Regions from separate parts of the Homo sapiens genome. Here regions 1, 2, 3 and 5 are each reported to be linked to region 4. The links are microRNA targets in miRTarBase. Many come from high-throughput screens and were not tested one by one. Region 4 holds a microRNA gene; each other region holds the end of a gene's coding sequence.

What was found. The annotated mature microRNA hsa-miR-1193 reads GGGAUGGUAGACCGGUGACGUGC and lies in region 4 at 1,880-1,902, shown strand. An mRNA with a match to its seed (bases 2 to 7 or 8) in the 3' UTR can be bound and repressed. Matches are read on the target gene's strand: a 7mer-m8 pairs with bases 2 to 8, a 7mer-A1 pairs with bases 2 to 7 and ends in A, and an 8mer does both.
Region 1: miRTarBase lists DNAAF10 as a target of hsa-miR-1193. Seed matches in the 3' UTR shown: 7mer-m8 at 3,926-3,932.
Region 2: miRTarBase lists ABI2 as a target of hsa-miR-1193. Seed matches in the 3' UTR shown: 7mer-m8 at 2,905-2,911.
Region 3: miRTarBase lists COL22A1 as a target of hsa-miR-1193. Seed matches in the 3' UTR shown: 8mer at 2,631-2,638.
Region 5: the mRNA of NLRP11 is a reported target of hsa-miR-1193. The part of its 3' UTR that is shown has no 7-base or 8-base seed match.

Annotation. Positions count from the first base shown.
Region 1 is chr2:68,127,205-68,131,484 of GRCh38, forward strand. It overlaps DNAAF10 (dynein axonemal assembly factor 10), which reads right to left. Exons shown (of 8, transcript NM_138458.4): 8 at 2,601-4,241. The coding sequence ends at 4,034. Among named protein-coding and RNA genes, the nearest start is that of DNAAF10, 28 kb to the right of the region's middle.
Region 2 is chr2:203,426,654-203,430,933 of GRCh38, forward strand. ABI2 (abl interactor 2) reads left to right here. Exons shown (of 12, transcript NM_001375670.1): 12 at 524-4,280. The coding sequence ends at 699. Among named protein-coding and RNA genes, the nearest start is that of ABI2, 100 kb to the left of the region's middle.
Region 3 is chr8:138,585,773-138,590,052 of GRCh38, forward strand. COL22A1 (collagen type XXII alpha 1 chain) reads right to left here. Exons shown (of 65, transcript NM_152888.3): 65 at 2,463-3,668. The coding sequence ends at 3,481. Among named protein-coding and RNA genes, the nearest start is that of FAM135B, 91 kb to the left of the region's middle.
Region 4 is chr14:101,028,182-101,032,461 of GRCh38, forward strand. MIR1193 (microRNA 1193) reads left to right here and starts at 1,871; the gene lies at 1,871-1,948. LOC124903407 (mucin-2-like) reads left to right here. Exons shown (of 5, transcript XM_047432049.1): 5 at 1-4,280. It overlaps MIR494 (microRNA 494), which reads left to right and starts at 1,453; the gene lies at 1,453-1,533. MIR543 (microRNA 543) reads left to right here and starts at 3,806; the gene lies at 3,806-3,883.
Region 5 is chr19:55,781,692-55,785,971 of GRCh38, reverse strand. NLRP11 (NLR family pyrin domain containing 11) reads left to right here. Exons shown (of 10, transcript NM_001394894.2): 10 at 101-573. The coding sequence ends at 347. Among named protein-coding and RNA genes, the nearest start is that of RFPL4AL1, 15 kb to the right of the region's middle.

The DNA.
Region 1 (4,280 bases), not on the chromosome of region 4:
CATGTTGGCCAGGCTGGTCTCAAACTCCTGACCTCAGGTGATCCACCTGCCTTGGCCTCCCAAAGTGCTGGGATTACAGGCGTGAGCCACCACGCCCAGCTCACATGCTCTTTCAGAACCTAGCCAAGACCCCATCAAAAAGTAGAATTTACTTCATCTCCACAGGGAATTTTAAACATTTAGCTGGGTGTGGCAGCATACACCTGTAGTCCTAGCTATTCTGGTAGCTGAGGTGGGAGGATTCTTTAAGCCCAGGAGGTTGAGGCTGCAGTGAGCAATGATGGTGCCACTGCACTCCAGCCTGGGCAACAGAGCAACAGAGTAAGACCTTGTCTCACACACACACACACACAAAGAAAAAGGAAGTAGAATGTATGTACTCTGCCCTTGCACTTGGGATAGGAGGTTGTGATTGCCTCAACTAATAGTGTGGCAAAGTGATTGCTAAGTAAATTATGAAGATAGGTCATTAAAAAAACAAGATAGCTTCTGCCTGGTCTTCTCTTGGGATGCTCACCCTTGGAACCTGGCCACCATGCTCAGGAACCCTATGCCATGTGGCGAGCTCAGCCCTTGCTTCTCAGATCTGGTTGAGGTCCCAGCTAACAGCCAGCACCAACTTGCAAGCAATATGAGTGAGTGCCATCTTGGAAGCAGGTCCACCAGCCTTTAGTAGAGCTGCCTGCCTCATGCTATATGGAGCATAGATGAGCCTTCCTTGCTGAACCCTGCCCAAATCATAGACTCCTAAGCAAAATAAATGATAGTTAGTGTTTAAGATATGAAGGTCTGCAGTGGTTTGTTATACAGCAATAGGGAACTGAAATAATCGTGGTCAGCCAGGCTGCAGTCTTGACAGTTGTCACTGCCTGCATGTATGTATACACAAAAACATGTTGAAGAAGTGTCAGTGAATTGAAAGAAAACCCTGAAGGCAATAGTGGAACATGTTTTAAAGAAATGCTACATCACAAACACTTTTATGCACAAAGGACAATATTATAAGGAAAACCATGAACACTGATGGCTCTGAATTCAAAAAGTGATTTAGAAGAATTAAACTCTGAATATGAAGGAATCTAAGGAATAGCATACCAAATTTATTTTGTATAAATTTTTCTTTAATTTTTTTATTTCCATAAGTTTGGGGGGAACAGGTGGTATTTGGTTACATGAGTAGGTTCTTTAGTGGTGATCTGTGAGATTTTGGTGCGCCCATCACCCGAGCAGTAAACACTGAACCTGATTTGTAGTCTTTGATCCCTCACACCCTTCCCATCTTTCCCCGAGTCCCCAAAGCCCAGTGTGTCATTCTCATGCCTCTGCATCCTCATAGCTTAGCTCCCACTTATGAGAACATACAATGTTTGGTTTTCCATTCCTGAGTTACCTTACCTAGAATAATAGTCTCCTGTTTATGTGGTTCTTTTTAAGGATGCACACAAGTGATACACAATGGAAAAAAAACTATGTGTAAATAAAATTAAAAGAACACTCAATTAATATAAAGCAAATAGTGATAAAAAGAAAGGATTTTATCACAGTTTCATCATACCAGCCTAGCATCAGTGATATCAATGACATCTTAGATTTAATGAAATACAGGTGTTTATTGTTGTTGATTCTATTATATTACCAAATACAAGTGTCCTAGGAGAGATTTCCACAAATTTTCCATTTTTTTCTTTGCAAATTAAAAAAAAGTAGATATAAACTTTTTTAAAAGTTCAATTTAATTTTTACTTTCATAATTATATCCCATTGTTCTATAAAACATTGGGGCTGGGTGCGGTGACTCACGTCTGTAATCCCAACACTTTGGGAGGCTGAGGCGGGCGGATCACCTGAGGTCAGGAGTTCAAGACCAACCTGGCCAACATGGTGAAACCCTATCTCTACTAAAAATACAAAAATTAGCAGGACATGGTAGTGCATGCCTGTAATCCCAGCTACTCGGGAGACTGAGGCAGAAGCATTGCTTGAACCCGGGAGGCAGAGGTTGCAGGTGAGCCGAGATCATGACACTGCACTCCCGCCTGGGTGACAGAACAAGAAAAAAAAAAAATTTGCCTCAAAAAAAAAAAAAAAAAAAATTTGGAAACAACAACAAAAAAAAAGCTTAATTTTCTCAACGTAATATTCCAAATAAGTGACTCTCCATGATCACCTGAAATCACATAAATTTTGCATATTATGAATGTTTTAGTTGGCTCCGTTTTCTTGAATGGCATAGCATCAGTGATATTGATGACATCTTAGATTTAATAAAATACAGGTATTTATTGTTGTTGACTCTATTACCAAATACAAGTGTTCTAAGAGAGACTTCTAAAAATTTTCTAAACTAAAAAAAAAAAAACCTTAATTTTCTTAACTTAATATTCCAAATAAGTGACTCTCCATGATCCCCTGAAATCACATATACTTTACATATTGTGAATGTTTTAGGTGGCTGCGTTCTCTTCAATGGAGGTGGGGGAGGGTAGGCTTAATGAAAATGTGGTAAAGTCAATAATTCCAAAAGGCTTAGCTAAAGATATGTTGAACATTAAAGAAACAAAGTGAATTAAAACTACTAATTAAGCATTTATAAAGCAAAATGATGTGACAATGTTAACTTTATTACTACTGTTAAGGTAACAGAATCAAAGCTTCTGTAGATCTCAAAAACAGAAGTTTATTCATAAAATGCATTTTTAAAGTATGACCAAAAATAAGACTACAAAACCCCTACAATCTTGTACATTTCACCATCACTTACCACAGTCAAAAACCAAAAGTCTCACCAATTCAGTTCCTGTATTTTAAGTAAAAAAGAGCTCTTTAAAATCAAAGCATTTTGTTTTATGAATTAAATTGCAGAAAATAGCTACCCAAATCTAGACCAACCGTGCCGTTTTGAGAGAGAGAGATATATATATATATATTTGTTTTTTTTTTTTTTGAGACGGAGTCTCACTCTGTCGCCAGGGCTGGAGTGCAGTGGCGCAATCTCAGCTCACTGCAATCTCCACCTCCTGGGTTCAAGTGATTCTCCTGCCTCAGCCTCCCAAGTAGCTGTGATTACAGGCGCCCGCCACTAAGCCCAGCTAATTTTTTGTATTTTTAGTAGAGACGGGTTTTGACCATGTTGGCCAGGCTGGTCTCGAATTCCTGACCTCGTGATTCACCCGCCTCAGCCTCCCAAAGTGCTGGAATTACAGGCGTGAGCTACCACGCCTGGCCCACCATTTTGATATTTTATACAATAATATTATGTCCAGAAAATTACTCACACTGAAATCTCTCAAAATGTATTTATGAAGGTTAATTCAGTTTTTCCAAGGCAAACTCTTTTAAACCAAATGAAATGATTCCCACCACAACATTATAGACACTAAAACATAACACAAGCATAAAGATAAAATATGGAACTTCAGGGACACAGAACAAATCTGAAATATGTTTAATTATAGACAACTATTGACTTAGAAATGGAAGGGAGAGAAAAGAACTGGCCCTGGAGATAGTTTACTTGGTGCTTCTGATACCCACGTGCAGCAGCAAGTCAGCAAACAAGCCCCGAGAGAGGCTGGAGGCTGGCCCAGAGGCTTGTGGCTGGGGTCTTTTATCATCAGCCAAATCCAGCTTTGTTCAATGAGGGTCAGAGGACTCCAGAACCTATCTTAAATTGTGTGAGTGTTCCTCTGGAAGGTTTCAAGTCCAAAGTCTTTTTTTTTTTTTTTTTTTTTGAGACAGTCTTGCTCAGTTGCCCAGGCTGGAGTGCAGTGGCACAATCTCGGCTCACTGCAACCTCCGCCTCCCGGGTTCACGCCATTCTCCTGCCTCAGCCTCCCAAGTAGCTAGGACTACAGATGCCCGCCATGACACCCAGCAAATTTTTTTTTATATTTTTAGTAGAGACGGGGTTTCACCATGTTAGCCAGGATGGTCTCGATCTCCTGACCTTCTGATCCACCCGCCTCGGCCTCCCAAAGTGCTGGGATTACAGGAGTGAGCCACCGTGCCCAGCCTCAAGTCCAAAGTCTTGAAGTCAAATTTTATTGAGCTTTGTAACGATCAGTACTCTCACCGTTTGGTCAAATGAACTACAGACGCAGAGACCCCTTTTATCTGGACTCCAATCCAAACTTGAAATGGGCTGGGTGGACAACGTAACATTCTGCAGAAGGCTTACAGAACCTGCGACTCCCATTTCTATTCCCTCAGAATCTTTCTTTGACCGCTGAATAGGGTATTCACTGAAAACAAGATCAAAATGGTAAGAGCGCATAAATCTT
Region 2 (4,280 bases), not on the chromosome of region 4:
GCGAAGAGGCATAGGCTCCAGAGAGAGTGAGAAAGGAGACAGAAATCTGCTGTTCCATTAGTCTGGTTTCTCACTTGACTCTCATAGTGTATCTCATTGCCCTAGTATAATTCTAAGGTAAAGAAAAGCTTTAAAAAAAAAAAAAAAAAAACCACAATATGGTATCTCAACACAAACTCAAATGAAGAAACAGCCATCTTTCTTGATTCTAGGATTGTGTACCTCTTCAATGAGGTACTTCCCTGTAGGCTCTTAAAAGGTCATCAAAAGCACATTTGATTAAATGTGCTTTTTCCCCATTTGTACTCAATTTAGAGCCTAACATCCCTAGAAAATGGAATTTCATTGTATATGACTGGGTATTACTTAGAAAAAAAAACATGTAAGTTTTGGTTGGTGTTTAGAAAGTCACCATGTTTGAGTGCTACAGGATTTGGGAACAGATAGCTATTCACTGGCTTGGTTCTGTCTTTCTAGGAATATTACTGTCTTTCACATCCTGTTTTGTTTTCTTCCCTCCTAGTTGTGGCAATTTATGACTATACAAAAGACAAGGAAGATGAGCTGTCCTTTCAGGAAGGAGCCATTATTTATGTCATCAAGAAGAATGACGATGGTTGGTATGAGGGAGTTATGAATGGAGTGACTGGGCTTTTTCCTGGGAATTACGTTGAGTCTATCATGCATTATTCTGAGTAAAGCTCAGCAGGGCTGTGCTTGCCTCACAGGAATAGTCAGGTCTTCCCAGATTATCTGAAGGCCCTGGGGATTCCACTCCAGTAAAGTAGAATGAAGGATACAAATGATAAAAATTACACTTTTTTTTTTGGTTTATTCCCCAGTATTAAAAACAAAGCAAGCTGAGTCTGAACAAATGGATCTTTCTGCCATCATTTGTACAATGCTGAGCTGTCTGGATTGAAATAAAATGACCATTTTTATGTATGTCAAAGGTATAACAGCATAACTGTGTAGCCAAAACAAAATCAGATTAAGACTGATTCAGAAAAATCTGGGATCTTTCTCAGGAATACTGTATACCCTTGGGATTTCTCCTCCTGCAGAATCTGTGGCATTGGATGTTCTTCATTGCCTGTGCTAAGGGGTTAACCTCATGGCCCAGTGGGTACCCTAGCCCCTTCTTTTCTTCCACTTGTATGAAGAGGAGGGAACCAACATTTAAATACCACACTTAACCATTTTTACAATTATTTCAGATGGCTTTTTTCCTCTGTGACACTGTAAATTCTGCATTCTCTCAGCACTTGAGTGCACCAAACGAGTGAATGCTGAACTCACTTGCATCCCTTCATGTTTCTGTTTGTGGATTATAAGGATGATGAAATGTGAAAGTCTCCCAACACTCTGAGGGTGGTGAACGATTGCCACCCGTTTGATTTTAATGTGCTGCTGCATGAGACTGCATTGTTGCTAATGGCCAGTGTACCCAGATGTGAAGTGTGGTAGGCTGGTTCATATGTGGAGGTGGGTGTGTGAAGCTAGACACGAAGGTCCCTAAGGTTCTGAAGAGACTTGAACTGTGGAAATGCTCTTAGCAGGCATCCCGAACCCCTGCTTCGGTGCTGTTTTGAGGAGTAGGATCTTGGAGTTCAGACCAACTATGACTATCATTTCCTTCACTATCTAGAAAAACGCTATTCTACTTTGGAAGAGAATAGTAGTTATTTTCAAGTCTCCTGACAGTCACTGGGAGTACAAGGTTTGCTAATGTGCTCTCTGGACGTTATTAATGGCCAGTATTAGTTGCTGCTGTATTACTGACTCGCTTAGCTGTAGAAAGGGTAATACTCTCCTGATTTTGTATGATTGGACTCTTAAGTAGCTGCTGTTAGTCAGAATTAAAACCCATCTCAGACTAAGAATATAATGAATAAGATTAATAGGCCAAAATATGTATCTAATCACATTGATAAAAATTAATATAACTGACACAATAAAACACATTTCCCCCATCTGTACAATAAATACAGCTTCAAATTCAGTGGAGTCTGTAGGGCAGATAACTTTAATCATCACTACTGTAGTCAGTATAAGAAATGCTGAAAAAAATCCAGGAGGGCTTGTCTCTTTGTGGGTGGTCACTGTGATGTTGGGCCAGCTCCTGTTCAGGTCCAGAGCTGCTAACGTGGGTTCTACTCAGTCCCAGTGACTTGGCCAGAATAGAGCTTTGCCAGGTAACTGCCCTGTGCTAGGTGAAAGGGGAAAAGCAGTAGCTGGATATATTTCAAATGAGGTTTTGAACAAGTTCAGAAAGTGGAACTTGATTGAAAAGTGAACAAGTGTAGTAGTGTGTGAGAAAATTCAGATGGTGTCGGATGCAGAAGTTAATATTCCACTTAATGTTATCTGAGCATTAAAAATCATCAGCATTTAACTGAGACCCCACTATAGAGTTTCCTTATCAAGACTTTTTGGTTTTAAAGTTGTTTTTAATGCATTGCAAGTTACAATAGCTATTTTGCTTTTAGATTTTTCCCAGCACTTTGTATTTATTAGCTTTCATTAACTTGCCTCCAGTATACATTCCACTTCGTGCTTTTCTTAGGTCATTTCTACATCCCTTATTCCTTGTTTTCCTGCAGTGTAATGGCCCTGAATGTCCTCTGAGCCTTCAGCTCCATTATGGACCCAAACTAGACTATACTTGGATAAGTTAAGCTCTTCTTCGTGTACTGGTCTATAATTAGAAAAACTGTTTTAAATTAGATGTTCCCATTATTTATTTAAACAGCTTTTTGCTGAGAAAGCTTAGTGGATTAATGAGGCAGAGGGTGTTTTGAAATCCAATAAATAGTTCCCACAGGCTGGGTGTGGTGGCTTATGCCTGTAATCCCAGCACTTTCGGAGGCCGAGGTGGGTGGATCATGAGGTCAATAAATTGAGACCATCCTGGCCAACATGGTGAAACCCCATCTCTACTAAAAACACAAAAATTAGCTGGGCGTGGTGGCGCACACCTGTAGTCCCAGCTACTTGGGAGGCTGAGGCAGGAGAATCACTGGAACCTGGGAGGCAGAGGTTGCAGTGAGCCGAGATTGTGCCACTGCACTCCAGCCTGGTGACAGAGCGAGACTCCATCAAAAAAAAAAAAAAAAAGTTCCCACAGCTCACCACTACAGAAGCAGGGAAGACAACTATGCAGAAAACAGAGTTAGTGGCGGTCAGCAGGAATGCAGCTGGTCTTTTGGACCCCTACGGGATGGGGGCAGTGCAGAAGACACTGGTGAAGTCCTTTATACTGAAGACCTGTGGTTGGGAGCAGGGGTAGTCCATGGGTCTGCTGATTTTTTTTCCCTATTTAGTACTAATGTGTGTGTGATCTTTGTTTTACAAACAGTACCTTTTGGGTTTTCTGCATATTTTATAATTTTTGTACAGTTTTGAATTCTATAGATTGTCTTGGAAGGATACTGTGTGATGGGTCAGGCACACAGTAATTGGAGACTTTTAATGTATGTAATATTTCATAGATTGCATGCTATTAATCATCTGTGAGGGTAGTATTTTTTGTTTTATTGTAAGTTTCCCTCTTTTTTTATAAATTAAAAGATGGTTGGTATTAGGAATTTCAAATGAATGCAGAAAATCTTACATGCTGTGTACTATTAATATTATAACAGACGATCCAAGTCCAAAATCTGACCAATAAAGCAACCATTTTATCAAGATAGAGGGATTCTAATGGGAGAGGGGATTCTTCCCTCCTGAAGTTTGTGTGTCCAGTCCCCTTAAAAAAAATGAATAGTTGTCTTTTCTTGTCATATTAATACTCGAAAGTCCATGGTGGTATTAATGAAAGTACACTTTATTGTTGCCTTTGAACTTACGGCCAAGGCAATAAATCAGAAACAAAAATAGTGCCAATGTGTCAAAATCGACATCTGAGAGATTCAGCCTCCCATTTGGAATAAATATGAATCTTCTAAGCTATCTTGTTTAATATTTTCCATCATTTAGCTACTTCCTATCTCCCTCAGAGGCGCCTGCTGTTCCCATTTTAGAGTTGACAGTGGCCTGCTAATTTTGCTATGTTCCTAAAAGTTACTGGGTGTGAGACATTTTCATCCCCTCCTTTTTCCTACTGCTGGTGTTTATTATCCAGCTAGACAATATTTTATGCATATTTACCGTGATGTCTGGACCGTACCTGTGCTCCTTGGCAGTTTATGTTGAAGATAACTAAAGATTTTTCTCTTTGGGAGGCATCAAAATGATGGTAGTTTGCTTTTATCTTTTTATGTTCATTTTCTTTTAGTAGG
Region 3 (4,280 bases), not on the chromosome of region 4:
CAGGTGTGGGAATTACGAACTGCTAATTACAAAATAATAATTATTGGGAACTATATAAGGGAGGTGAGCCAGATCTTTATTTTGTCAAGTAAGGATATAAAAAACAAAGAAGTAAATATTACTCTACACACACACACACATACACACACACACCCCACATTCTCTTTCTCTCACTATTATTTCTCACAGTATGAGTCATTTTAAACCCTAAAAATTAGAGAGATTCCAGTCTCAGAATGAAAAGCCATCCTTTCAATGCAACACATTTGGGTTGGTTTTCTGTCCAGCTCACATTGTTGACCTCTGGTCCCACCTGGCAGGTGAACACCTCACCCTGTACCAGTAATTGGGAACTTCAGGCCTGTGACTGCCAGGTTTCTGACAAAGAACTTTTACCTAAAATATACAGAAAACTCTTGAGACTCAAAAATTAAAATCAGACAACTTAATTTTTTAAAATGGGCAAAACATCTGAACATAAACTTCACCAAAGAAGATATTCAAGTGGAAAATAAGCATATGAAAATATGCTGGATATCATGTTATTAGGAGATTGCTAATGGAAGCAACAATGAGATACCACTACGCACCTATTAGAATGACCAAAATCCCAAACACTAACAGCACATAATGCAGGTGAGATGGTGGAGCAACAGAAACTCACTGCTGGTAGGAATGGAAAAGGATGCAGCTATTTGGAAGACCAATTTGGCAGTTTCTTACAAAACTAAACATGTTCTTACCATGCGATCTAGCAATTGTGCTTCTTGGTATTTACCCAAAGGAGTTGAATAATCACATCCACACAAAACCCTGCACAGATATGTTTATAGCAGCTTTATTCATAACTGCCAAATCTTGGAAGCAACCAAGATGCCCTTCAGTAGGTAAATGGATAAATTCTGAAACTTCCAGGCAATGGGATATTATTCAGCACTAAAAAAAAGGGGGTTATTAAGCCAAGAAAAAGCCACAGAGGAATCTAAATGCAAAATACTAAGTGAAAGAAGCTAAATTGAAAAGGCTGTATGATACCAACTAGATATTTTGGAAATGACAAAACTATGGAGACAATTTTAAAAAACCAGCAGTTTCCACAGGTTAGGAGAGAAGAGGAGTATGAAGAGGCAGACAACAGAGACTTTTTAGGGCAGTGAAACTCTTCTGTATGATCTTATAATGGTGGATAATGGCATATCAGTATCCATTAGTCCAAACCCATAAAGTGTGCAACAGCAAGAGTGAACCCTCATGTCAACTGTGGATGTTGGGTGATAGTGACGTGTCAATGTAGATTCATCAACTGTAACAAACGTACCGCTAGGGTGTGGGATTTGGAAGGTGGGTGGGTGGGGGAGGCTGTGTGTGTATGTGGGTGGTTGGGGGTGGGCAGGGAGCACATGGAAATCTGTACCTTCCTCTTAATTTTGCTGTGAATCTAAAACTGCTCTAAAACTTAGTCTATTTCATACAACAACAATAAAAATGAAATAGAATAGTAAATGTTCGATCAAGCACACTTGATCAGGTAGATATTTTATTTCAAAACCCTTGCTTTATATATGTATGCATGTACTGAGTCACTAAGAAATTACACCTCTTACTGTGGGTCATGGTCAGAAAATGTTAAAAGTCACTGGATGAGAGTATTTCTGAGGTCCCTGAGATAGTTTCTTCAAATGAAAAAGGGTATTAGAGTAATACCCCTGCATCTTCAATGGTTGTGAAAACCAACTGAGATGGTAAACGTGAGAAAGACTGAGAGGGAGGCTGTCTCATTCTGCACCAACAGGAATGGCTTCTTTTGGACCCCTGACACCCATCCAGCCCCAGAATCAGCACCAGCTGACTGAACACAAGGAATGGGTATCAGATTTCATTTTTAAATCATTGCAATAATACTTCTTTACCCATGGAAACATCAAACTTCTTGAAATGTTTATGTTCCCAGTTTCTAAATCAATTAGAGGCATCCAGAACAGGGGATCACACAAAGGAAGTTCTTGATAAACATCTACTGCTTTAGTCTGTAAGTGGCTAACAGCTTGGGTGAATGGACAAATTAATGAATGGATGAATCAATGGATCGATCAGTCGGTCCACCAGTCAATCTGTCAGTCAAGAACAAATGCAGGAAGAGTATTGGTGACTCATTTGGCCTCTAGATGCAGTTTAACAGGAAAGGTTCTGCTAAAACCTTCCAACTTGCTTCACTCCCTCCCCACTGTGATCCTGCATAAATGTGCACATCTAAATGTCTGCTTCCATATGAAGGGAGGCTAATGAACGGCCCTGGACTAGCTCAGTCTGGCACACACATTCACTCCCTCGTTCATTCACCAGGTGGGCTGAACATGTGGACTGTGTGCTACGGTTCTCACAAGAAAAAGATACATCCCAGTGCTTGAGGAGTTCACATTCAGGTGGAAGTCGAATACAAGAAATCAATCATCAAGAGGAACTCAAGAGAAGGAAACTTGGATTTATTGAGCACCTGTTCAGGCAGGGCATGTCGCATACACACATGCACTTGATGCCATTTATTTCAGAGACAGAGCCGCCTTGGAGATACAAATTTCCCAGCTCTGGTCAGTGCCCTGGCCAACTGCCCATCATTAGGGAAACACAAGTGGATGGTCACCACATCCACTTGTTTTATAATTAATATAATTGAAACCAACAAGAGGAACTTGAAGGGGCCTTACACAGTTTAGAAGACAAATTAACACTCAAGGGCTGCCTCTTCAACATAGGTTTTCCCATCTTTGGCCAAGACATATGATCCCACAAAGCCATTGCCAACCCACAGACATTATTTCACTTCTGTGAGCTTAGAGCACTGAGGTGGCTGGAGTGCACCCTGAGGGCTGATTCTGTGTTTTCCAAATGCACGTCCCGTCGGGAGGTGGGAACATTCCTCATGGTTGCAAATTCTTTCTCTTTCTGCTTCTTTACTCTCTCTGGACAGTGGTGGTGTTTGTATTATTTCTCCTGGGTGATCTCCGGGCATGACTGAGAATGAAGCCCATTGGCTCATTTTCTTAAAGTTTTTCTTTTGAAGAAAGAGGTAAATTTGCCAAGTGTCTGGTCAGGGTTTTGTAGCACCAAGAGTTTCCTTAAAATGGGCAGTTACGCGTCAGATGGGGGCTGTCAGAAGAATGAAGAAACAATCTCCTGCCCCACGAATCAAGTTTTCCCAACTTTAAAGGAGTGGAAAAGAACTCACAAAGCATCAGCATATGAAATAATAATAATAATTAACAACAACAATAATATTAATAATAATCTGACCGACCGGCAGCGTCTGTTGGATTTAATAATTTTGAGGTCTCTCAAGAAAATAAAACAAAAAGCAAACGATAAAAGAAAGAAAAAAAAAAGGAACACATGGCTGAAGTCTTTCAAGACCTCTGGCTTCCCACTGGGCTCTGAGTTCAAGTTTCAGAAATCCACTGCAGTCTTCTGGCTTTCCAGAGTCCTTTAGGGACCCTTCACATTACCCGGCCGGGCAGCAAGGCTGGCGAAGTAGGCACACTGGGAAGGGTCACATTGGCCTGGGGGACCGGGAGGTCCTGGGAGGCCAGGATGTCCAGCTGGTCCTGTCTCCCCTTGAGGGCCAGGGATCCCAGGAAGTCCATCTTTAGCATAGCCAGGTTCCCCGGGTTGACCTGGCCCAAGGAGCAAAAGAAACAGAAGGTGGTTCAAGATCCTTCTGGGAGGGGATGGGCCCTGAACTCACAGCTTCCATTCACTATGAACTCAGGACCTGAAACGTCCTCAGACAGAGCATCCCCATGGTCTGGGAGCTCTGAGCAACTAGAGTGGTCCACATAAACACCAGGTAGCAGGAGCACCTCAATATGTAGAAGAAGGGGTTGCTTTAACTATTTGACCTAGGATAGTAATCCAGGTACCACTGGAGAGAAAGAAACAAGGGTAGATTGAGACCAGGTAGGGCATATTTCTCCACTGAAGAGTCAGATGAGAGACCTGGCCTTCTGGGTTCTTACATGGGTCTAGGGAATGAGTCTGAGTGGAGAGTGGACACCAAGTCCTGATCATTAACCCTCAGCCCCAATTCACATGACCTTAGAGACACCTGGTGACATTCCATTGTGTAACATCCAACTTGTTCCAAATCTGTATTTTCTCAGCTTTATCTACACATTAAATTTGAACCACATATTTGGATTACATTAAGCTATTCTGTAAAATCATGGCCAAAGACAACATCTAGGATGCAAGTAAGTGACACTTAAAATAGTCCAAAATTGAGACCC
Region 4 (4,280 bases):
GTGATGCCAGCCTCTGGGGAAGGAAAAGGCTCCCTGCCAGCTCTAAAGCCAAGGCACAGAAGTAGGTTTTGCTGGTGCTGCATTTGTTTTGATGGCACTTAGCTGTGACTGTGGGTCCTCGGCTCATCTGTGGCATTTGGGGATGGGACTGTGAGGGAGGAGGGCCTCAGGTTCTGGAGAAGGGCCAGGTATTTCCATGTCAACCCTGCTTTTTATAACCAGAGAGAACATATGAGGTAGCACCAATGACCTCCGCCACCAATCCTTCCTATTAGCTGATACCCAAACACCGTTCCTTCCAGCCGAAAAGAGCCCTCATAAAGAGAGGGCAGAGAGAGTGTGTCAAGGCCATGTGACAGCAGGCAGTATGCTGTTGCCTCCGGGGTATCCAGGGTAGGCGGCTGCTGGGTCCATGTAGATTGGGTGCTCTGCTGGCTACGGAGGGGTCAAAGGACAGGTGGCAAGGGTGCAGAGCCGCAGCCTGGCCCTGGGATTTTCTTCTCAGACCTCTGCTCCGGGGTCCACCTTCGGGGGAAAAGAGGGCACAATTTTACAACTTTGTAAGAGGAAACCTGAAGTTTTCTGACCCCTGATTCTCCCCAGCCCTGTCAGGATTGATCTAACTCTCTGTTGAGATGCAAAAGAGTCTGGAGATAACAGTACTCCCCCCACCATGAAAACAATTATTGTCAAAGGAGTTTTATAGCAAACAGAAAATCCGGCCCAGAATTGGCTAAAACATTTGGGGAGCTCACATCAGGAAATGAGATTCGTTTTTATTTCTTGATTCTGCTGAATTGGATTGAAGGCAGCAGAAGGCATTAAGTGGGATTTGACCTGGAGGAAGGTGGCCTGGCGGTGCTCCTGGCTTCCCCGACCCTCCCTCCCTAGCCGTGTGTAGCAGGCACTCACTTTGCTTACAGCTTCCTCGGTGCCATGTATCTGTTTTTGGAATCACACCTTGCCTGGAAGGCTGCTTGGACCCATGGCCAGTGCCACACAGGGGCCTGGGCACCGGCTAACTGCAGACCCAGCCACCTGCTTCTTGACCACAGAATTCGAGATTTACTCATGAGCTCTCTTGACGCACTGACTTTGGGATGCAAACCATTATGACTAGGGGCACTTCCCGTGGCCTGGACTTCCACAAGGAAACCCTGGTTCCACCGTCAGGAAAGCTCCAATACCTGGAAAGAGGTTGTACCTAAAGTGTTCTCTGTATTGGCGGAAAATGTTTCCCGGGCAACCTCTTTTCATTGTGAAGGCTTGAAGAGCTTTTGGCTGACTTCCCAAAAGCAACCTGGGACACGCAAATAGAAGCCATCTGACGTCTGGTCTACCCAGTGCCATGTAGATTCGGGGAATCTTCCTGGAGGTGACACCAACATCGGCGAAGATTCGGCAGTTCTGTTTTGATTTTTTTTGTTTGTTTTTTGATCAGTGCTAATCTTCGATACTCGAAGGAGAGGTTGTCCGTGTTGTCTTCTCTTTATTTATGATGAAACATACACGGGAAACCTCTTTTTTAGTATCAAATCCCACCCTGGAGGCACTTCCTGTTCCTGATGCAGCCTTCAGGGAGGGACGTTGCCGGCTCCACTCTCGGTAGGCGCAAGCGAGGCTGACAGCGTGCCATGCGTCGTGGGGGTGTGGCTCTCAGGCCCCAGCCATGGAGGGCCCCTAGGAGGGGAAGCTGAGTTTGGAGAAGGGCCTGTGCTTCTGTGGTTGAAGGAGGTTGCTCATTGTGGTGTTTGTCTATTTGTTGATTCACGGTGGGTGGCGCCTCTTCAGTGTGAGATCTTGCTTGGATGGCCTTCTGGACACGCTAGCAACGTCATTGAAGGGACGATGGTGCCATCTGCTCTCCAGGGTAGCTGAGGGGATGGTAGACCGGTGACGTGCACTTCATTTACGATGTAGGTCACCCGTTTGACTATCCACCAGCGCCCGGTCCATCTGTGGGATGACATCTTGGTGCACATGGCAACTTCGGAGAAGATGTGGGAGGACGTGGGGCCCGTGGGACTCTGCAGGATTTTAGGAGGGGTTTCCCTTCGGGGCCCCCTCCTCCTACCTCGTTAAAATCAATATAAGCAATCATCAGTGAATAATCTCTCTTTTGGTTTCAAATCCTGCCCAGGAGGGCTGATAGTCTGGCCACAGACAATGCCAGGATTGCAGAGGCCTGGGCTTCAGTGCCCCATCAGGGAAAGTCCCACCCCACACCACATGCTGACTGCAGGAGGTGTGTGTGTGACCTGGTACAGGGGTGTGGTTTATCCTCGGAAGGGTTTGAGGAGTGTTGTGTGTGTGCAGGACAGGGCAGGCGTTGGGACAGCTGTGGTAGTGAGGGCCACTTTATTCTGTGCTACATGAAGAGAGGCTGTCTGACAAAGCTTGCCATGTGTTTGATGAATGCTACGTGGCCCATCTCTTTTCCATAGGAGGACTTCCTGGACATGAAGCTAGATTCCGGCAGGGCCACTGGTGTCAGCAGCACTCCTGGTGAGTCGTGGATGGGGGACTGAGGAGCTGGCAGCGTGATTGAGATGAGCCCTTCCTGTGTTGGGACCACTCAGAATCCAGCCGCTTCGTGGGCAGCGTTCAGTCCATGCTTGGGGAAAGGGCTTTGTTGCCGTTGCTCATCTCTGTCTGTTGTTCAGCTCTGCTTGCCTTACGAGGCCCCAGATGCCCTGGATGCCCTCAGTGTCAGACTGCGGAAGATGTGTCCCGGCTGTGACACGCGCTTCAGGGGAGGGCTGTTGGCGTCAGGTCCATGGAGAGGTATGGGAGTGGACATCTTGTCTGAGAGCAGACATTCTATTTCGGGTGTGTGTCTTGGTCCGTTCATCCTCAGTCTCCCTCCCATACCTAGGATGGCTTGTGGAGAGAAGGCCTGCCCTGAGGGCTGAAGTTGGGACCCACAGCTCTCACCCCGGCCTTGGTATGCTCCCATGGCTACGGCAGAGGCACAAGAAAGTAATTAGAAACGCAGAAACTCCTTAAGGCCAAGGCTGGGAACTGCTATATTTCTACCCACAGATCATTGACCAGAACAATTACACGGCCGAACCCAAGGCAAGGGGCGGGGAGGCCCACTCCACCCGGGAGGGGGTTGTGGTGAGGTGTGAATGCAGGAACCGGTGAGGATTTGCCACCACCAAGTCAGTTGTCCACGTGGACCACCTGAGAACTTGGGTTTTATTCATTGCTCATTCATCCCTCCCTAACCCGCAGCTTCCGGTCTGCCCCGGGGGCTCTTCTCCGGCTCAGGCTGATCGACAGTGGTGACGCTGTGCCAGGACCCCTGGTCATTCCATCTGTTTGAGGCAAATGTTAAAAAATCCCTTGCGCTACCCATTCTATGACGACTCCCTTGGCTCAGAGGCTCCATCAGGGCAGACACTTTGCTGTTTGTCCCTAAAGGGTGGGTGGTAGATCTCATCCATCTTATCTGGGGAGTTATTGTGACTCTCCTGGTCCCTCCTCATGTATCCTCAGGAGGACTTTTAGGATGCAAAATCACTGTTTCTGTGCCATTGTCATATTCTGTGCTACTGGAGGAGACTTTTTGTTATTGAGAAATTGAACACATCGTGCTCACAAGCAGCTCCAGGACACAATGCCACCTGTGCAGAGGGGGCAGACCTGTTAGATGTCTCCCAGGTCTTGAGGGGGTTGTATGCACGGCCATATCTTTGTCACCGGTTGCCCGGTGCGCATCAGGACCCATGTGCTCTCAGGAAGCCCGCAGGAGTGATACCAGCCGCGGAGAAGCAGTGTTGTCAACGGTGCTGACGTGCGGTACTTAATGAGAAGTTGCCCGTGTTTTTTTCGCTTTATTTGTGACGAAACATTCGCGGTGCACTTCTTTTTCAGTATCCTATTCTGCCTTGAAGACGTCTTGGTTTGGGTGCAACTTCAGGGAAGGCACATGGGCCCCTGTAGTGGACGCTGATCAGGACCTCCCTACCCCATGTCTTTTCTCCTTCCTAAATTTCTCCTTGTTTTTTTTTTTTTTTTTTTTTTTTATGAAAGCTCCCGTCTTCCCGCCGTGTGCTTTGATTGCATTGACCCTGCCCCACTTCCTCCACCAGCCCAGGCTTAAGCGAATCTCTTGATCTCTTCTCCTTTGCCACTGCAATTGCTTCCGGAATAGGCCCATGACCCCACTGGGCCAGTGATAGGCAAGGAGATGCTTGCTGCAGCTTCTGGGAAAGAAACTGTTTCTCCCTTTCCTGTGATAGCTGCCAGAGTAGACACTGTCTATTCCATTCAGC
Region 5 (4,280 bases), not on the chromosome of region 4:
GAATACCCAAAGGATGCCATATGGGGAATTAGTCATTGATGCAACAAAGCTGAGACCTCACATGTAGCATTAACGGCGTTCTCTCTCTGTTTTCCTTCAGGCTTCCATTAACTGGCCTGAACACACAAACCCAGCAGTTGCTGATGACTGTAAAGGAAAGAAAACCCAGTTTGATCTTTCTGTCTGAAACTTGGTCTTTAAAGGAAGGCAGAGAAATTGGTGTGACACCTGCTTCTCAGCCAGGTTCAATAATACCTAATTCTAATTTGGATTACATGTTTTTCAAATTTCCCAGAATGTCTGCAGCCATGAGAACGTCAAATACAGCATCTAGGCAACCCCTTTGATCATGTTGTACGTAAACAGTATTTATTATAAATTACTACCGTGACTGGGATGCAAGAGAATTAGGACTATAATTTTCCTATTTGATGTGTGTGTGTGTGTGTGTGTGTGTGTGTGTGTGTGTGTGTGTGTGACCTTGATCCAGTCAACCACTTCAAATTCCTACACTGTCTCAAGAGTATTAAAAGGATTATATGAAGTAATAAAGGATAAAATGCATTGGAAAAAGCTGTGAAGCATGATTGTTTCATCAGTGGGCACGGTGGAGTAACACTAAAGAAACTATGATCCTTTCATGGTTTGTTTCTTGTTTTTGTTTTTCTGGGTTTTGTTTTTGTTTTTGTTTTTGTTTTTGTTTTGGTCTAGGGAGAGTTGTTAGAAGGTGTCCCTAGGAATCCTTCGAAATGAAATCCTCATCTCACCTTCCCTCCTGACTTCGTATTCCTGCTGCACCATGTTCTTCCCGGATCTACCTAACACCGTAACTGGCATTCATTTCCGTATCTCCCCTGCTCTTAGCCAGCTCCGCTCACAAACTTGTGTGTGTTCCATGGGATGAAGGGTGACTTCTCTAAGCTGTGGAGAAATGTCAGATATGTGTGGCCTCAGAAAAAGCGTCTCCTTTTCACCTTCTTTCAGAAGAGGGAGTTGAACTGGGCATCCTCTGATAATGTTTCCAACCCTGACACTGTATTTACAATGCCCCATTGCTAAGCATCTGGTTGCTGTACCTAATAGGCCTCCATAGGTGAGAGGATACCTACTCAAGGTGGGTAGGTTTTAGGGTCTTTACGTGCTGAAAAAAAAATTTTTTTTTTTTTGTTTGAGATGGAGTCTCGCTCTGCTGCCCAGGCTGGAGTGCAGTGGTGTGATCTCAGCTCACTGCAGCCTTCTGCCTCCCGGGTTCAAGTGATTCTCCTGCCTCAGCCTCCTGAGTAGCTGGGACTACAGGCGCCCACCACCATGCCCAGCTAATTTTTGTATTTTTAGTGGAAATGGGGTTTCACCATGTTGGCCAGGGTGGTCTGGATCGCCTGACCTCAAGTGATCCTTGGCTCAGTTTCTAAGGAGAACTGTCCTAATTTCTCCCTTTGACAGTGTTTCTAGGACACAGGGGTATACAGTAAACCTGAGCTTTCTGGTCCCACATTGAGCCAGGAGCTCAAGCCAAGCACCTGGCTTAATGTGCCACTGTCTTGGTCCAGCCGGGGCATGGATGGTGTGGCTCAGAGCCAGGCAGGGGTAAACCTATTTTGCCCAATGCTATTGCTCACCCTCAGCTCTGAGCTCTTCTCCTGTTTGAGATCTTTATGTTCTGCCTTTTGCTCTAAATGTACAGAAGCACTCACTGGGGTGGTCTTGGCAACAAGCTCTGTACAGGGATGTGTCAGTCACCATAAGCTGGGGCACCTGAGTCCTTAGTTAGAGACAGGCTCCTGGACCTGATCTCCCCACAGAGATGTCACGATCATGTCATCTGTAGTATCTCTCAGTGACATTGCCTCAGTGAGTCTGGGGCTTCTCTGATGAGAATATTTGATTCCCAATGCAAAACCTCCTCAGCCACTTCTGATAAATGCAACTTCTGGACATGATGTGAAGATTCTGATGATTAGCAGAATAACTGGCTAAAAGTGTTTTCTATGTTCCTTTTCAAAACTCTGATTTCAGAATCAAGTCATAATCAGCTGTGGAAAGAAACCTTGAAGGTGAATCAAAGGATCTTACTGTAGTTTCAACTGGGCTTGTTCTTTGATTTTTCTGACATGTTTCTAAAATAAGATAATTTTTTTTTGAGACAGGATCTCACTCTGTCGCCCAGGCTGGCATGCAGTGGCACGATCACAACTCACTGCAGCCTCGACTTCCTGAGCTCAAGTGATTCTCCCACCTCAACCTCCCCAGTAGCTGAGACCACAGATGCATGCAACCATACCCCCCTAATTTTTTGTACTTTTAGTAGAGAAGGGGTCTCACCATATTGCCTAGGCTGGTCTTGAGTGATCCGTCCAACTCAGCCTCTGAAAGTGCTGGGATTACAGGTGTGAGCCACTGCACCCGGCCAGGCTATCACAATTTAAGGAAACCTCTTGTTTTCCCATGACTGAAAATTCTGAAGTCATTGAAGCCATCTTCCCACCTCAATATTGCATATCTTCAATGTCCACATACTCCATGGCATATTGTAATTTGTCATCCAGGTTACCTATATAGCCCTGCCTCCTGTGCCTCTCCTTGGAGAAACAGACTTCCCTTCTTTATTCTAGATAATTTGCACTGAGAGGAAGCATTCCTACAAATAGACAAAAGCCCTATTTAGAGCATATAGAGCAATAATATCAGAATTTTAAAATTCTGTTTAAAATTAATGGAGTGATCTCACTGCAAGTTTCAAGGTAGGGAATTTTAAAAGTAGTCTTTGGTAAAACAAAAATTAAACTGGGAAATAACTGTCAAAATCAGCCTTTGTGGAAAATTTGAATCTAATAATTTACAACCTCCAGGGGAACCGTGAGTGAAGGAAGAAGCTGCTTAATTTCAGGAAGAGAGTTGTGGCTTTTTTTTTTTTTTTTTTTTTGTGGAATCTTGTTCTATCACCAGGCCAGAGTGCAGTGGCATGATCTCGACTCACTGCAAGCCCCTTCTTCCGGGTTCAAGCGATTCTCCTGCCTCAGCCTCCCGAGTAGCTGGGATTACAGGCACCCACCACCACGCCCAGCTAATTTTTGTATCTTTAGTGGAGATGGGGTTTCACCATGTTGGCCAGGGTGGTCTGGATCTCCTGACCTGGTGATCCGCCCGTTTCGGCCTCCTAAAGCGCGGGGATTACAGGCGTGAGCCACTGCACCCAGCTGAGTTGTGGTAATTTGACTCACCCACCTACTCTTCCCCACTCTGCAGCTTGATGGCTGCTGAGAACATGGAGTCCCTCATTCCCAGGCCAGCACGCTGATGCCACAGGATGAAGAATCTTTGTTCTCAAAGAATTGTGGTTGTGTGCCTCCATCTATCTTAGTGGTTCCTTGAAGGGTTGGCTCAAGGGCTTGCCTTTATTTCACCCTTTTTAGATCTACACAGACTGAAGCTGATTTATTGGGGGGTGCCAGTGTCATTAAAAGCACTTAAAGACAAATACACTTGCTGAAGTTGCCTGGGTGAGGGATAACAGGGAAAACAGATGACAGAATGAAAAGCCTATTAAGGAAGAGTCTGGGGGGAGAATTACATGAGATAGTAAGGGCTTTGAATAGCACTGAGGTATACCAAGGATTGAGTTCAATCATACATGTCCATGCAAGATTATAAAAATCTGAGAAACCCTATGTTTTACCTCTGATGATCCCGAGGCTCCATGCAAGCAGGAAATGAAGGCTGAAATGAGAGTTGTAAAAATCCTGGCTAGTGAACCTGGGAGGTGGAGGTTGCAGTGAGCCGAGATCGCGCCACTGCCCTCCAGCCTGGGCGACAGAGCTAGACTCCGTCTAAAAAAAAAAAAAAAAATCAAAATCCTGGCTAAGCTCCCTAGAGGGATCCCATGGCAAAGAGCTTGAGAGAATTTTGGGTTTGCGTTCAGGCATGTTTTAAAAATCTCCATCAAATTGTTAGTAGACCAGAAGGCAGAGACTTCAGTGGCCACACAGGAGAAAGTGAAACCTTTACACAGTAGTTTACAAAGGTTCAAACAAAACAAAAAATGAAAACAAAAACAGAAGACTCCAACTCACAACCAGCAGCAACAAGAAAGCCTGCTCAGGGGTGAGAATTTGATGTCCAGGGTTTGCCACACACAGTGTCCACTTTTTCTTACCAAAACAATGAGGCACACACACAAGACAGTATAATAGTCGTAAGAAAAAATAGCATATGAGCAAGCCAAGACATTGGGCTTCCTCTCCAAATACTAAATTAATTATCTTAAATATGTGCAAAGAACT